Homo sapiens: one gene and its partner. The protein of the gene in region 1 interacts with the protein of each later gene in a pairwise test. Each region holds a gene or a part of one and is shown on either strand. Other genes may lie near its edges.

Region 1 (3,943 bases):
CGCACTCCAGCCTGGGCGACAAGAGCAAAACTCCGTCTCGAAAAAATACAAAAAAACCTGCAACCCAAGAAAAATAGTATTACTCTTTAAGTATACTGAGGCCCAAAACACTAAACAAAGGAAGACAGTAAAAGAAACGGGTTTAAACTCAATCACCTAAATAATAGAGGGGTATGGGGGAAAAAGAAAATCATCTGCCTAATCCCAGGCATTCCAATCGTTAGGAAGAGCAAACTTTAAAACTATCACTATGTTTAAGAGTCATAATTATTATCGAAAATGATGTAATTTTTTAGTCAGTAAAAAGGAATGCAAAATCTTTACATTTTCCTTTTAACGGAATAAAAATGAGGTAAGCACAAAATAATGTGGATCCGTCAGAATTGGGTATCTTATACACACGCAGGCTTATTGTTCAGAATAGATAATTTACGAACTGTAGCTCCTCTGGGGTCAACGAAGAGTTTTTTTTTTTTTTTTTTTTTTTTTTTTTTTTTTTTTTGAGACGGAGTCTCGCTCTGTCACCCAGGCTGGAGTGCAGTGGCGGGATCTCGGTTCACTGCAAGCTCCGCCTCCCGGGTTCACGCCATTCTCCTGCCTCAGCCTCCCAAGTAGCTGGGACTACAGGCGTCCGCCACTACGCCCGGCTAATTTTTTTGTATTTTTAGTAGAGACAGGGTTTCACCGTTTTAGCCGGGATGGTCTCGATCTCCTGACCTCGTGATCCGCCCGCCTCGGCCTCCCAAAGTGCTGGGATTACAGGCGTGAGCCACCGCGCCCGGCCAACGAAGGGTTTAAATTTAAAGGAACAAGGTCAGTGACAAGACTTAACTGTAACGCTTCTCGGACTTCAAATTGATTACATCACGGGCCACTTCGGAAACCGCGCATCAGTCAGAATTGGTAGTTCCACAACCTTTTAAGTTGAATTTTCACTCCCTTTCAGCAATACCTTCCTAGCTCGTTAATACACAATAATAAGGTTTACACGGACGAACACTAATTGAAATTATGCAACTAGAAGCATCTCATTGAGCGTACAAAAAAAAAAATAGCTACAAGTCGCTCTCTTCTCCCACACTACCCTTTACAGACACTGCCTTTTTGACCCAATACTTTTCAGAGACCACTCCTGATCGTCTTTCTCTTCCCCAGCCCCTTTCTCCACCGCAAATTCTCAGGCCCTAAAAAAAACTTAGAATAAATCACTAGCCAGGGTGAATAAGCGAAAATGGAGGAAGTTCAGTGAGGCGAAAGGAACGTAGGGTTGGGGAAGAGAGGAGGAAAGTTCTGGAAAAAAAAAGGCACTCCCTGCGGCTCCCCACCCCCACCAACACCGCCTTACTTCCCCCTCCCTACAGCAGGCAGCCATGATGGCGGGCGCAGAAGAAGGCCGCGGCGCCATTTTGTCTACACACATACACACGAACAAGGTTCTGGGAGCCGTTCACCCACTGTTGGAACGTAGCAGAAAAATATCCCTGGCTTTAAACTCAGATTCGGTACCTACCGCCATAGTTCAGAGTCCCGGCCGCTAGAGCGGCGCCTCCACTTGTCGCTTTCAACAGTACCGGCCGCTCCGAAGCTTCGCCTCAGACTAAATCGCTCGCGCGAGAGACCCGGATGGCACAAAGGCGAGGAGGCCCGGCGCGTCGCACAGCTTGCTGGGAGAAAAAGGGGCGGTAACAAAAGTTTCTATAACAACGCAATTCGAGGCGGTGATTGGGTGTTCTTTCATAGGGGAGTGTAAAGACCGTGAAGAGGGCGGGGCCAAGAATACACCCCCGGAATGCGCAGTCGGGAGAACGGAATGGGCGGAACTCAGGGTGGGGCAACTTCCTATTTCGAGTCTAAAGTAATCTTGGTCTCTTCCGGCCGCCGTAAAGGGGTTGGGTTTAGTGTTCTCCCGCCAATTTAAGCCTGTGGCATGGAACCTAAAGACTAGAGGCGGTTGTGTGAGTCAGGAAGAGGGGCCAGATATCTGAGTGTTCCTCTTTAGTTTCTTCAATTGCAGGTGAGGACGGGGAGCTGCGCTGTGTAGGGAACTGGGGGTGGGTTCAGGACGAAGTAGCTGCAGCCTCTGCTCAGTTCCTGTTGTTTTCCCCTTGACGCTGGCAGGAGAGAGGTTGGAGTCGGTTTTTGCTGGCGGCGATGTCCAGCGGAGAGCGTTTAAGTATGGAGGCCTAACTGACAAGTGTTTCATCTTGCTCATTCTCTCGTATTCGCGAATCTGTTCTGCATTCCGCCGCCAGAGTGATCTCAAAATTATAAAATCAGACCACTCGTTTGCTGAGTTCCCCTTCTACCCCTTGTACTGAGAATAAAATTCAATCTTGAGGTCGAGGTTTTATTGGACTCCACTGCTCTCTCCCTCACTGTCTTCTGCTTTTGCTTTGACCCGGCAGCAGCATCAAACGCTTCCTACCCAGCCTCCGAGTCTTTGCACTCTGTTCCCTCTGCCTACGTCGCGTTCCGCCTAAGTTTTGCGTACTTCTTGTTATTCAGGTCTCAGCTCAGATGTCACCTCCTTCCCTTCCCAAACAAATCCTTCTTCAGCGACGCCTCACCTTATCCATTTAATCACTGTTTCCTTCAAATCATTTAGCACTTTTTGTAATTATTTGTGCAGTTGCTTTTTTGTGGAGGTAGCATAACAAGATACGTATTAACAATTTTATTTTTGTCCGTTTTTCCCGCAAAAACATAAACTTCATAATGGCAAAGACATTTTGTGTTCTGTTCAAGCTATATTCCCAGTTCCTAGAAAGGTGTCTGGCACATAGTAAATAGGTATTCAATAAACATTTGTTGAATAAGTAAATATGGCAGTTACGGGCGGTTTCTCTATTTCACAGATGTGGGAAATTGAGACCCATAAAGGTATTCATTCCAACCTGTCCCTCCTTCTTCATCTCCTCACTCCCACCCAAACACCAGCCACTGAAACTTCTCTATTCTCCAAACATGTTTTGTTTCTGTTCCCTTGCTTATGCTCTTAGGAAGAACTCTTTAAACATTTATAAAACTATGATCTTCAATTCTCAGCCCAATAACAAATTAGCTAACACCTAAAATTGAATGTTTGCCATCAACCAAGCATTGTTCTGTGAACATTTAAAACTCAAAACATTTGGAGGCTGAAGCAGAAGGATTGCTTGAGCCCAGGAGATCAAGGCCAGCCAGGGCAAAATAGTGAGACCCTCGTCTCTCAAAAAACCAGAAGTGAAAAATAGAAAACTCCTTCAGGTGGGTACAACTAAATTAGTCCCTTGGTATTGGTATCCATGGGAGATTGGTTCCAGGACCTCCCACAGATACCAAAACCCTAGGATGCTTAAGTCCCTGTCATTAAATGGCATAGTATTTGCATGTAGCCTAGGAACATCTGCCTGTATACTTTAAATCATCTCTTGATTTCTTATCTTGCGTAACAGTGTAAATGTGCTATGCCTGTAGGTGCAATCTAGGGATGTGGAACACATGGATATTGACGGCAAACTGTATATATATATTTTTTTTCCAAGACGGAGTTTCACTCTTGTTGCCCAAGCTGGAGTGCAAGTGGCACGATCTCGACTTACTGCAACCTCCGCCTCCCGGGTTCAAGCAATTCTACAGCCTCAGCCTCCTGAGTAGCTGGGATTACAGGCGCACACCACCACGCCCGGCTAATTTTTTGTGTTTTTAGTAGAGAGGGGGTTTCGTCATGTTGGCCAGGCTGGTCTCAAACTCCTGACCTCAGATAATCCACCTGCCTAAGCCTCCCAAAGTTCTGGGATTACAGGTGTGAGCCACCGCGCCGGCCTGGTCTGTATATTCCTATTTTATAAATTAGAGAATTGAGGAACAGAAAGATTAAGTGATCACCCAAGGACAGCTGCCTAGTCATTGTGAAAGAGCACCAAGTCAGAAATTGTTTCTACCTTGTGCTATACCTTTTATA
Region 2 (3,600 bases), on another chromosome or scaffold:
TTAACAGTGATATGATAATGCTGGTTCTATGCATCTATTCAAGTACGTTTTCAAAGAATTTTTCCCAAGTAAAAAAGCTCATATGTTCAATGAAAACAATTTGGGAAAAAATTTAATGCTGACCTGGAAAAACATTATATATGCTACTGTCATATATTTAACATATAAATGCAAGTATATTGAGGAAAATATTCTAAAATGTCCACAGTAGTTAATGCTGAATGGCGGGACCCAGTGGCTTTTCATTTTCCCCCATTTCCCAAATTGCCTCCCGTTACCTTGTGCTACTTCAATCTGTGAATCCCAGAGCCTCCCCTGCAACCCGAGGACAAGGGCATGCAAGTCCGAAGGTGCCTTCGCTCGCCGAAAAGAGACTCAGACACGGAATCGTAGCTCAGTTTTATTTTCTACAGAAACAAACATGTAAGCCGTCCTCCTCCAGCGACAAACAATCAGGCCCCCACAATGAACTGGCCACTCGTGCTGGGACCATTCCCTAGGGGAGGAGGCATGACCTAGGAAGGGGCGCCAGGCTGGGCTTAGCGCCTCTGCCCTGAGGGAGGCTGAGCCAAAAACACGGGCAGAAAGCACTGCGTGATCCACATCAACAGGGAAAGCTGCTGGAGACAGGAGCTGATGGAGAGCTGCAGTTGGCGGTGGTCTGCAGCAGTCAGTCGGCTAAATGTGAGGGGCAGAGAACATCACGTTAAAGGCGACACCTCTGCACCCATCTCCCTGGGCTCCCTCGGGTGGCGGCGGGCCTGGTGTACCAGGTCTCTGTTCTGAGACCCTGTGCTGGGGTGTTCCCAGGTTTCTAGCAGCCTGACCGTGGGGTGTAGGCGGATCCCAGCCCCCACCCTGCCACGCTGTGACCGCCACCCACCCAGGCCCCATCCCTGTCCTGGTCCTGAACTGACATAGTCAGTATGTTGCCGGACACAGTGAACTCCTTCAGAAGCACCCCTGGCACGGGAAGCGGTGGGGCATCCTGGGCCAGGCTCCTGCGGGCCAGCTCTGCTTCCATGGGTGTCGCGAAAGGCATGGCGAGGTAGCTGGTGGGGGCCCAGTTAAGGCATCCTCTCCTAGGACTTGGCCTGTGGCTCCGGCCTGCTGCTTACCCCAGGCCAGCTTCCCCCTCCCCCACTCCCCCACCCCTCCCCCCTACCCCGGATTGCCCAGCCCATCCCCCCCAGGCTGTCTCCCCAGGCACTGGCCCAGTAGCACACCCCACCCAGCTGTCTTGGTTCCCCACTTTCCTTTGCTGCACCCCAAGCTGACTCCTCCATGCCCTTACAAGACCCCTCCCCACCCTGCCCCCTGTGGCATCACCCGGCCCCCTCCTCATCACTCGACCCTCCATCCCAACCACCTCCCGCCACCCGCTCCCATCTTGCCCCCTTCCCCCCACCTCCTGATCCCCTCCTACACCTGGGTCCCCCTATCTCCTGGCCCCTGCTCCCCTCCCCGCATGACCCGGTGCCCCTCACCCAATCACCCAGCCCCTCTCCCCCACCCCCACCCCCTCTACCTCCCAGCCCTTACCTCCTCCCCTCCTCGCAGCTGGCCTCTCATATCCCCACCTCCCAACCCCCACCCCCACCCCCACCCAACCACTTACTCGCATCTCCCCCGCCTCCTCCCCCACCTGGCCCTGCCCTCCCCATCTCCCGGCCCCCACCTCGCCACCAGAACTGTCAGAACAGAACAGAACAGAACAGAACAGAATACAACTCAAGCAGGCGGCTCTCCGGCCCCCTGGCCCCGCATCTGCAGCATCCATTCAGCCCTGAAGCCGCGCCGCCATGCGGACCCCGCGGGGCGCCTCCTCCCGGCCCCGAGGCCCTTGCTGCCCCTGCGCCCCGGGGACCTCTGCCGCCCGTGGCACCCGCCTCTCCTGGGCCGCCAGCATTGCCCCCTGGGCCATCAGGAATGCCAGGGCCTCCTGGGCCATCAGCATCGCCCGTCGAACCCCCTGTGCCCCGGCCTTCGGCCTGCATGGCTCCGGAGCCTCTGCCCGGCTCTCAGAGAGAAGGTCAGGGCCCACGAGGATGCGGAGGCAGAGAGGCTGCAGGAAGTTCCGCCCCCTGGCGTGAGATGGGCAGCCCGGGATCCTCAGGGCGCCTGCGCACAGGGGCCCTACTTCCGGCCCTGGGAGACCCCGAGTGAGCCCCGGAGCACGTGACCGGTTCTCACCAACCCCGCCCCTCCCCAAGAGAGCCCGGGCCGGAAGGTGGCCGCAATGCCAGCTTGGACCCCTCACCCCTGAGCAGCCGGCTGTCCGCCGGACCCCTGTCCCGGGAGCCCTGCAGGGAGTCAGGCACTGCGGGGCCCAGCCTGTCCCATCCCCCGGGTCTCCCTCACATCGAGGAGCAAGACGGGCCTGGGAACACGGGGCCGGGACTGTGCGGCCATCGTCCCGGACCCTGCCTGCCCTGTCCGTCCTTGGGGGAGCGCCCAGGACAGACCCCGGGGGGCAGGCCTCTAACTGGGCTCAGCAGCCTCCGTCCCTGTCCTGGTCGCCCAGCTGGTGGGGTAGCTGGAACTGCATGTCTGGTGGGCGTGGCCTCGCGCCAGCCAAGGTCTCCCAGGCGCCAGGTCCAGCCAAGGTGGACGGGAGGGCCCAGCGGGACCCGGGGCCGGATCTCACTCCTGGGTTCAACGGGTTCTGTCCCTGTCCTAGTCGCCCCGCCTGGTGGGGGAGCTGGAGCTGCGTGTGGGGTGGGTTGCGGGTGGCCTCCCACCAGCCAGGGGCTCCCGGGCTCTAGGCCTGGCCCAGGTGGACAGGCGGGACCTGCTGGACCTGAGGCTGGGTCGGGCCTGGCTCCTGGGTTCGGCAGTATCAGTCCCTGCCCTGGTCGCTCTTGCCTGGTAGGGAGCTGGGAGGTGACCCTGTGTCTGCTCAGTGGTGATCTATTTGTGTGTCTGGAAGGGGGTCAAATCCACGGGACAGGTACCTCTAGAGGCATGCAGGGGTGAGGGCGGCACGGCCCCGGGAGCTGAATGTCTGTGCCAGGCACACCTGTAGCAACAGGAGGTGACCAGACAGGGCCTAGCCCTGAGGAAGGGGGAGGTACTGAAATCCAAACCACTCTCCCCCACCTTCCAAATCCAGGAATCAGCAGCCTCTGCACCTGGGAAAAGCATATTGGCACTCATGTGGAAACTAAAAACGTTGATCTTTTGGAGGTAGAGCAGAATGATGGTTACCAGACGCTGGGAAAGGTGGGGAGGGTGGGGAGGTTAATGGGGACAAACATATAGTTGCATAGAAGGATTAAGTTCTAGTGTTTGATAGCACCGTAGAGGGACTATAGGTAATTATTTATTGTATATTTCAAAATAGCTAAAAGATAGGAAATGTTCCCCAAAAAAAGAAATGATAAATGCTTGAGGTGGTGGAGATCCTAAATACCCCGACTTGATCATTACATCGTGTGTGCGTGTGCATGTATCAGAATATCACATGTATCCCATAAATATGCAGAGTTATCATACATCAGTTAAAAATGTTTTTACTTACAGAAAAGAAAAATTCACCCAAGCTCTTGCGTGTACCTCCAGTTTATTATTTTCACTGCTGTATTTCATTACATATATTTC

The links. The genes of interacting proteins can lie anywhere in the genome.
Region 2: the proteins of RSRC2 (region 1) and CTAG1B interact in binary tests that used the Homo sapiens proteins (3 or more experiments, as listed by UniProt).

Annotation. Positions count from the first base shown.
Region 1 is NC_000012.12:122,525,338-122,529,280, forward strand, and holds the start of RSRC2 (arginine/serine-rich coiled-coil protein 2), read right to left. Parts: upstream 1,600-3,943; 5' UTR 1,517-1,599; coding exon 1,511-1,516; intron 1-1,510.
Region 2 is NC_000023.11:154,617,222-154,620,821, forward strand, and holds CTAG1B (cancer/testis antigen 1), read right to left. Parts: upstream 2,062-3,600; 5' UTR 1,998-2,061; coding exon 1,729-1,997; intron 1,053-1,728; coding exon 918-1,052; intron 679-917; coding exon 540-678; 3' UTR 388-539; downstream 1-387.